2 linked regions of the Homo sapiens genome follow. The protein of the gene in region 2 interacts with the protein of the main gene of each other region in a pairwise test. Each region holds a gene or a part of one and is shown on either strand. Other genes may lie near its edges.

The links. The genes of interacting proteins can lie anywhere in the genome.
Region 1: the proteins of KLHL35 (region 2) and FAM25G interact in a two-hybrid assay, tested with the Homo sapiens proteins (one large-scale study listed by BioGRID).

Annotation. Positions count from the first base shown.
Region 1 is NC_000010.11:47,488,901-47,493,078, reverse strand, and holds the start of FAM25G (protein FAM25G), read left to right. Parts: upstream 1-1,378; 5' UTR 1,379-1,404; coding exon 1,405-1,477; intron 1,478-3,430; coding exon 3,431-3,493; intron 3,494-4,178.
Region 2 is NC_000011.10:75,423,204-75,426,703, forward strand, and holds part of KLHL35 (kelch-like protein 35), read right to left. Parts: intron 3,436-3,500; coding exon 3,317-3,435; intron 2,379-3,316; coding exon 2,190-2,378; intron 678-2,189; coding exon 489-677; intron 1-488.

The DNA of each region.
Region 1 (4,178 bases), on a different chromosome or scaffold from region 2:
GTCCTGCTGCCCACGATACCCACTGTCCACCCTAGGGGGACTGGCCGTAGCCCTGGAGCCCGCAAACACCATGCAGGAATGCAAGAGGGTCTCAGCTCCCGAGTCCCAGGCTGGGAGGGCCCACAGTCCAGTAAACTAATCAGGCCCCGACACATCCAGGAGAGCAGCTCCAGGAGCCTGCATTGGGGAGAGAGCCTCAGACCCCTGCCACAGGCCTGCACCCCAGAAGTAGGAGCATGGGAAGACCTCTCCTTGGCTCCTGGCCAGCAGAAGTCACATTCCCCAGCCCTCTGGCTCCAAGGCAGCCTCACGTCCCAGTCACTCCTTGGCACACCCTACCAGTTGGTCAGAGCTCACTGCCAAAGGGCACCTCAATGATGAGTGGAGGGAACAGGTGTTTACCAGGAGCTTGCATGCTTTGCCTCAGGGATGATTAGGGACACAGCCAAGAAGGCACGCTATGCCCATTTTACAGATGAGGAAACGGAGGCTCAGGTTGGGCTGGTGACTAAGGGAAGCAGCATGTGGCAGGTGGCTTGAGGCATGTCTGTCCATCATGAGTAACTAGGGAGCAGCCCTGCCACTCCTCATGCGATGCACCAGGAGCCAGGGAAGCTGCTTCCTAGGGGATTCTAGCTAAGGCCAGAAGCATCTCCCTGAGTGGTGGTGGAGGCCTCTGTCTACTCCTCCAGGACTGCCAGGGGATAGGAGGGCACTGCTGACCTCACAGAGCCTCTTGGGTGAGTGAGCATCAGCTGAGCGACACCAGGTGACTACGCTTCTGCCCAGTGCTGTGCCCCCCTCTGACTCGGGCAAGGCACCACCCTGAACGCCCCACCCTGTCCCATGGAGGCCGCAAACTGCTCTGCAGAGCCAGGGTCTCCAGGAATGGGGAGGGCAGTCACCCTCATTCCACTTGTGTTCATGACTCAAAGGACTGCCCAGGTCTCCAGGCCCATAGAACCCCCAAACCTCTTACTAGGCCACACTGGGGACCTTGAGCAGCAGGCTTGGAATCCTAGGCCTTGTCTCCAGGTACATATCAGTACCCAGGCTTGGGAAGCTTTGGTCTCAGGGGGGCTGGCACTCAGGCCCTCTGCCTCAAGGAAGAAGCATGTCCAGATCTCTACTGTCCAGCCCTGCTCCCTGCCCCTATCCTTCACGGGGTCCCTAGGACAGGGTTACAGAAGCCTCATGCTGTCAGGGGATGCTGCCACCCTAGTTCCAGGGTGGCTCCGCCCAGCCCCTTCCTGCTGCCGCCCTCACTGACTCACCTGTCCAGCCTCCTACTGGGCTGGGGTGAGGGCTTATTGCCCCAGAGCCTAGATAGGCACCAGAGGCAGCTATAAAAGCATGTTGGGCCAGTCCTCAGCATCCTAGTTCGCCACTGTCTGCTGCCACACGATGCTGGGAGGCCTGGGGAAGCTGGCTGCCGAGGGCCTGGCCCACCGCACCGAGAAGGCCACCGAGGGAGCCAGTGAGGACCCAGGGCTCCTTTCTACCTGGGCTGGGGGGATCTGGGGCAGACTGGGTCTGTGGGAGGCGGATCTACGTAGGCAGGCGAGGACCTGCGGGGAGGCCTTGGCCCCTCAGGAACCCTGGTCTCCTGCTCTACCAAGTCAGCACGGAGTTGAGGGGTGCAGACCTGGGGAGGTCTCCTGGGGGCAGGGCATGAGTCCTGGTGCTGGGTGAACACTGGCAGCTTGGACCCTTCCCTCTGGAAATCTGGGGAGCCTTTCTTGTCAAAACAGCCTATTCTGAATAACCTATGCAGGAAAAGGAAGATGGATTTTTATTTTTACCATAACTTTAAAGCTTCAAAGATTTCTTAACAAGTCACCAAGTCTGTTCAAAGTCAAAAAGGGCATTTTCAATTTCATCCAAGTCCCCTAAAGCATGTTTATTTTTATTTGTATTTGTATTTGAAATGGAGTCTTGCTCTGGCACCCAGGCTGGAGTGTAGTGGTGCGATCTCGGCTCACTGTAACCTTTGCCTCCTGGGTTCAAAGTGATTCTCATGCCTCAGCCTCCTGAGTAGCTGGGATTACAGGCACCCACCACCACGCCCGACTAATTTTTGTATTTTTAGCAGAGACGGGGTTTCGCCATTTTGGCCAGGCTGGTCTCAAACTCCTGACCTCAAGTGATCCATTCCTCTTGGCCTCCCAAAGTGCTGGGATTACAGGCGTGAACCACTGCACCTGGTCCCGAAGTGTATGTTGTATTCAGAGGTCAGCAGGTATGTGTGGGGAGGCCCAGCCAGGCCCCACTCATGGGTCATCGTGTGAAAAAGTCTTGCCTGAGTTTGTGTCCTCTTTCTAAATGGCAGCAGATGCGTATTTTGTTTTTGACTCTGCAGCTGGTGTGGACCACCTGCTTTAACCTTTCACTAGCCTCTGAGTTTTTTATGATTCCTGTTGGGAGAAAAGCTCAGCGTTGGGAGAAAAGCTGAGGCAGGGCTTGCTAGACTTGCTGGCTCCTTGCTTCTAGCACTGCCATTCTCTCAAGTAGCCATATGTTTCTCATTCACTTGATACACTGTTTCCTTTCAACCTCCACATCCTCACCACCTGTTTCTTTGTTAGATCACCAATAAATAGCGTGGGCTCCCAGAACTCGGGGCCTTCGCAGCCTCCACACTCGCGATAGCGCCCTGCTCCCATTTTCTCTCTCGAACTGTCTCTTTGTCATTCCTTTGACTCCGCTGGACTTGCCGCCCCCGTGACCTGGTGTTGGGTCTCATCATCCCAACAGATTCCCATTCTAAAGATGAGGGAACCAAGAGGTGGAAGGTAGAGTTAGAATAAGAACCATTTCTTCTGACTCTGAAATCCTTCAGTTCTAGCACGCTACCACCCACACTTTAAAAAACTCTGAAGTAGGCAGAGAATTCCGTTTTGTTGGAGGAATTGCTTTGAGAGACCTGGTCTTAGTGGATGAGGCTTTGGAAACCAACCTGAGGCAGGCGCTAGCACATCCTGAGAGGGGTGTGACCTGGCACACAGGCCCAGCCTGGGCTTCATGTCTCAGCTGGCAAGACTGCCTGCTCATTGCCATTCCAGGCCGGGCAGGGCCAAGGGGCTTCAGGGACCCATGCCCTCATGGGGCTCATTGAGCTCGTCTCCCAGCAGCCAAGGCCCTGGCGTCTCCAAATGAAGCCAGCTGTGGGGGAAGGTCCTTCTCATGAGTCAGTCTGTCCTGGCTGGGGGTGGCACCCCAGAGCCCCATCTAGGATGCCCAGGGATGTATAGGTCTGTTGTGAGGATAAGCCAGCCCTGAGCCCTCACCCTGGACTGGGAGGGCAGTGGGCCTGCTCTGAGCCCTCACCCTGGACTGGGAGGGCAGCGGCTCTGCTCTGAACCCTCACCCTGGACTCGGGGGCAGCCGGCCTGCTCTGAGCCCTCACCCTGGACTTGTCTCCTCTGTTCAGTTCATGCCGTGGAGGAAGTGGTGAAGGAGGTGGTGGGACATGCCAAGGAGACTGGAGAGAAAGGTACAGCCGGCTGAGGTCGGGCAGGGAAGGAGGGAGGGAGGAAGGGAAGCTAGGTGCTGGGCCAACCTGTTCTTTGACTAACCAGGTCAAACTCTGCCCCTAATGTTGCAGCCTTTCAGAGCCTCTTGGCTGGGGCAGTTATCTATGCTCATCAGAGGCCACAGACTGTACTGCGTTAGGACACTGTCTAGATGGTTCTCTCTGTGGAATAAGAAGACAAAGTCACACAAGACTATGTGACAGCACACTGGGACAAAACATTTAACATGGCAGGGTGCGGTGGCTCATGCCTGTAATCCCAGCACTTTGGGAGGCTGAGGAGGGCGGATCATGAGGTCAGGAGATCGAGACCATCCTGGCTAACACGGTGAAACCCCGTCTCTACTAAAAATACATAAAAATTAGCCGGGCATGGTGGTGGGTGCCTATAGTCCCAGCTACTTGGGAGGCTGAGGCAGGAGAATGGTGTGTACCTGGGAGGCAGAGCTTGCAGTGAGCCTAGATCATGCCACTGCACTCCAGCCTGGGCTACAGAGCAAGACTCGGTCTCAAAAAAAAAGAAAAAAATAATTGCTGGGGGCGGTGGCTCACGCCTGTAATCCCAGCACTTTGGGAGGCTGAGGTGGGCGGATCATGAGGTCAGGAGATCCAGACCACGGTGAAACCGCATCTCTACTAAAAATAC
Region 2 (3,500 bases):
TCCAGTCCAACCATATCTGTGTAGTCTCTGGAGTTTCAGGGGATGGAGAAGAAGGTAGGGGAGGCAGGGAATTGCAGGGGCCAGAGCTTCCAGGACTTGGGCCTCCCTGCTCTGATATCACTAGAGCAGACCTTAGCAACTCCCTTCCCCACATCTTACCTCATGATTGGTTACTAGCAGTGGCCTTCGGGGCAGGAGAGACCACAGGGTCATTTGGACCAAATCCCCACTCAAAGCTATAGCACTTGGGACTGCAGGGTTCTAGGCTCTGCCTTAACAGGGCCTAGTTGTTGGCCTGGGCCAGGTGCTGAACCTCTCTAAGGCCAGTCTCCTCATCTGTGAAATGCATGGTTCACTATCACTGTGAGGATGAGCTAGAGAGTGATGTATAATAAAACCACCTAGGATGGAGTCACAAGATTCACAAGCTCCAAGATCCAGAGCCTTAGAAGCGGGTTCCGCTCTCCTGCCTTGAAGCCTCCACTTACCACAGGGCTGGGGAGGACAGCTGCCTCCCCCCACACATCTGTGCCTGGATCATAGGTGAAGATTTTGCTCATGAGACCCCCCATGACATAGATGGTGTCCTCAAGGGAGACAGCCTCGAGACACCGCTGTGAGAAGGGTGCTGGTGACCGCAGGCTCCACCGGTCCTCCTTGGGGTCAAAGCACTGCACCTGAGGGGCAAGAGCAGCAGTGGTGAAGACTCACCGCCCCCCCCAACAAATGCCCCACCGCCCACATGCTGCCACCTCTCCCCCCGGGGGCACTCATTCAAAACGACATTTGCCAGTGTCCACCAGGCCTGAGCCAGCATCTGGGAGGGAGGGGGAGGTCCACCGTCCCTGCCCTCAAGGGCTCTTCATCTAGTTCTATGTTCTGTCCTCTGCCTCTGGACTCCCTTTGTCAAAAGCCTCCTCATCTTTCGAGGTCCTGCTCAAATGCCACCCCATCCTTAAAGGTCTCCCTGGTGTTCCCCCCTCCCCTCACCCCTCAACACACACACACAGGAACAGTCTCTCCTTTGATGGAGAACACAGTCGCCTCATGTTAGATTAATCATAGAGCACATCATACTGAGCTGGGAGAGGTACTGTCTGCTTTAGGGTTATAGAGGGTCCTCAGAGCAGACCCCCGACGGGGATGTGTTCCTAGCTGCATACACTGTCAACTCCCTTCTCTTTTCCTGGTGCTCTCAGGTCATTAGATTCTAGCTGAGGTGTCTTGCAGCCCTATTTCTACAGCTGTCCACATGCCCATGGGTGTTTCTGATGCCCTTAACAGTTTCTGTATTTAGCTGCCTGCTCACCTCACTCTCTGTTTCCTCAACTGTTTCCTTGGAGACCCCCTCCCCCCACAGCAGCCTATAACAAATCAGTGCTGCATGGATGGTGTTAAATGGGGCCTCCCACCATGAGTGCCTATCACTCAGCTCCAGGAGGGTTTGCTGGAAGAATGTGGTCAGGGAATAAGGAAGCGTGGGCACCCTAATTTGGGAAAGAGTCAAGTCCTAGGACCACAGGCTTATGAGGCCATCAGGGGAGGGAAGGAACTGCTATGATAAATATTTTTATTTGCAAAAAGCCTAAATGTCCCAACAATAAAAGATGAGTAGACTCTAGTTCATCCACCATGTGGAATAGTACAGACATTGAAATGATGGCTGTAAAGTTGATAATCACGTGGAAAATGCTCATACCTAAATTAGAATAAAATGCAGAATGCAAAATTCTAACAAAACAAAACTGTAAGAAAAACAAAAATCAATTCAGTGGAAGCCTGTAAGGCAACACACCAAAATATGAATAGCAGCTCTGCCTAGACGGTGGGATTATGGGTTTTTTTTTTTTCTATTTTTCTGTGTTTTCTAAATTTTCAGTAGTAAGTGTATTGTTTTTGGAATGGAACAAAAGCATTTTAACTATCTTGCCCTCAATTTTTAAAATGTATGAAACTTACATGGCACCAGCCCAAACATTTGAGTCCCAGTGTGCTGCTGACCCACTGTGTGACCTTGGGGTCATTTTTCTGCTCATTTCCTTCCCTGAAACATGGAGGTGACTGGTCTGGGCTGTTGATGGGATTAAGTGAATAAATGGACAAGGGCATGGAAACGCCCAATTCTGCGCCTGGCACACAGTGGGCACCCCAGCCTTCAACGCCCTCTCGCGCCTGAGGCCCACGCCCACCTTGTCCGTGTTGACGCCGCCCTGCCTGGCGCCCCCAATCACGAAGAGCTTGCCCGCGCAGGACGCCACCGCCGCCGAGCTCACGGCCTCCGGGAGGGGCGCGGCGGCCGCCCAGGTGTTGGAGAAGGGGTCGTAGCGCTCCACGCTGTGCAGGCGCCTCAGGCCGTCGAAGCCACCCACCGCGAACAGCTGCAAGTGAGGACATGGGCCGGGGAGCCGGGTGCCAGGGCCTTAGGGCCCTCGGCCTCATCGCTTCAGTCCTTACAGTCTTTGAGCTGGAAACTATCCCTGTCCCCAACCCAGTTTCAGGACCAAACTGACCCCCGAGCCCAGTGCTGCCACCACCTGGGCAGCCTCCACCCAGTTGCTGTACCTCCCTGAGCCGGTTTCCTCTCATTTAGCGGGGATGAGACCTTAACCTGCATGGTTACAGCTGTAAAATACCTGGCACCAAGCTGATGCTTAATAATAATAGCTAGTATTGAGACTTTACCACCCCACTTAATTGATTCTAAGAAGCATCTTTGTTTCTGAATTCGGGATGTAGCTTACAAAGATAATTGACTTTTTTTTTTTTTTTTGAGACAAAGTCTCGCTCTGTTGCCCAGGCTGGAGTGTAGTGGTGCAATCTGGGCTCACTGCAAGCTCCGCCTCCCAGGTTCATGCCATTCTCCTGCCTCAGCCTCCTGAGTAGCTGGGACTACAGGCACCAGCCACCACGCCGAGCTAATTTTTTGTATTTTTAGTAGAGACGGGGTTTCACCGTGTTAGCCAGGATGGTCTGGATCTCCTGACCTCGTGATCCGCCCGCCTTGGCCTCCCAAAGTGCTGGGATTACAGCCACTGCGCCCGGCCGACAGATTCTTTTATTCTTGAGTGGCACAGTCAAGATTCAAACCTAGACTCTATGGCCCCAGAGCCCATACCCTTGACCATCAGGCTGTTACTATTACAGTAATTGCTATTATTATTAGCATCAGCCATTATTATGTGACCTTGGACAAGTCTCCTTTTTTGGGGGGCTTCAGACCCCTTCTTACAAAGAGAGGGTTTTAGAGAACCTCCCTCCAGCACATCCACAGATCTGTACCTTGTGTCCCAGGGCAGCCGCTGCAGCTCGTGCCTACCTGCCCCTGCACAACTGCCATCTTGTGCCTCCACCTGCCCTTGTGCAGAGAGGCTACCTTGATCCAGGTGTGCAGATGGGAGCTAAACATCCACACATCATGACTGTTGATGTGGCCTCCTAGGGAGAGAGAAGCAGCTGTTGCCCATCGGCTCTCTTGCTATCCCAAGCACCCCCAAAGAGCT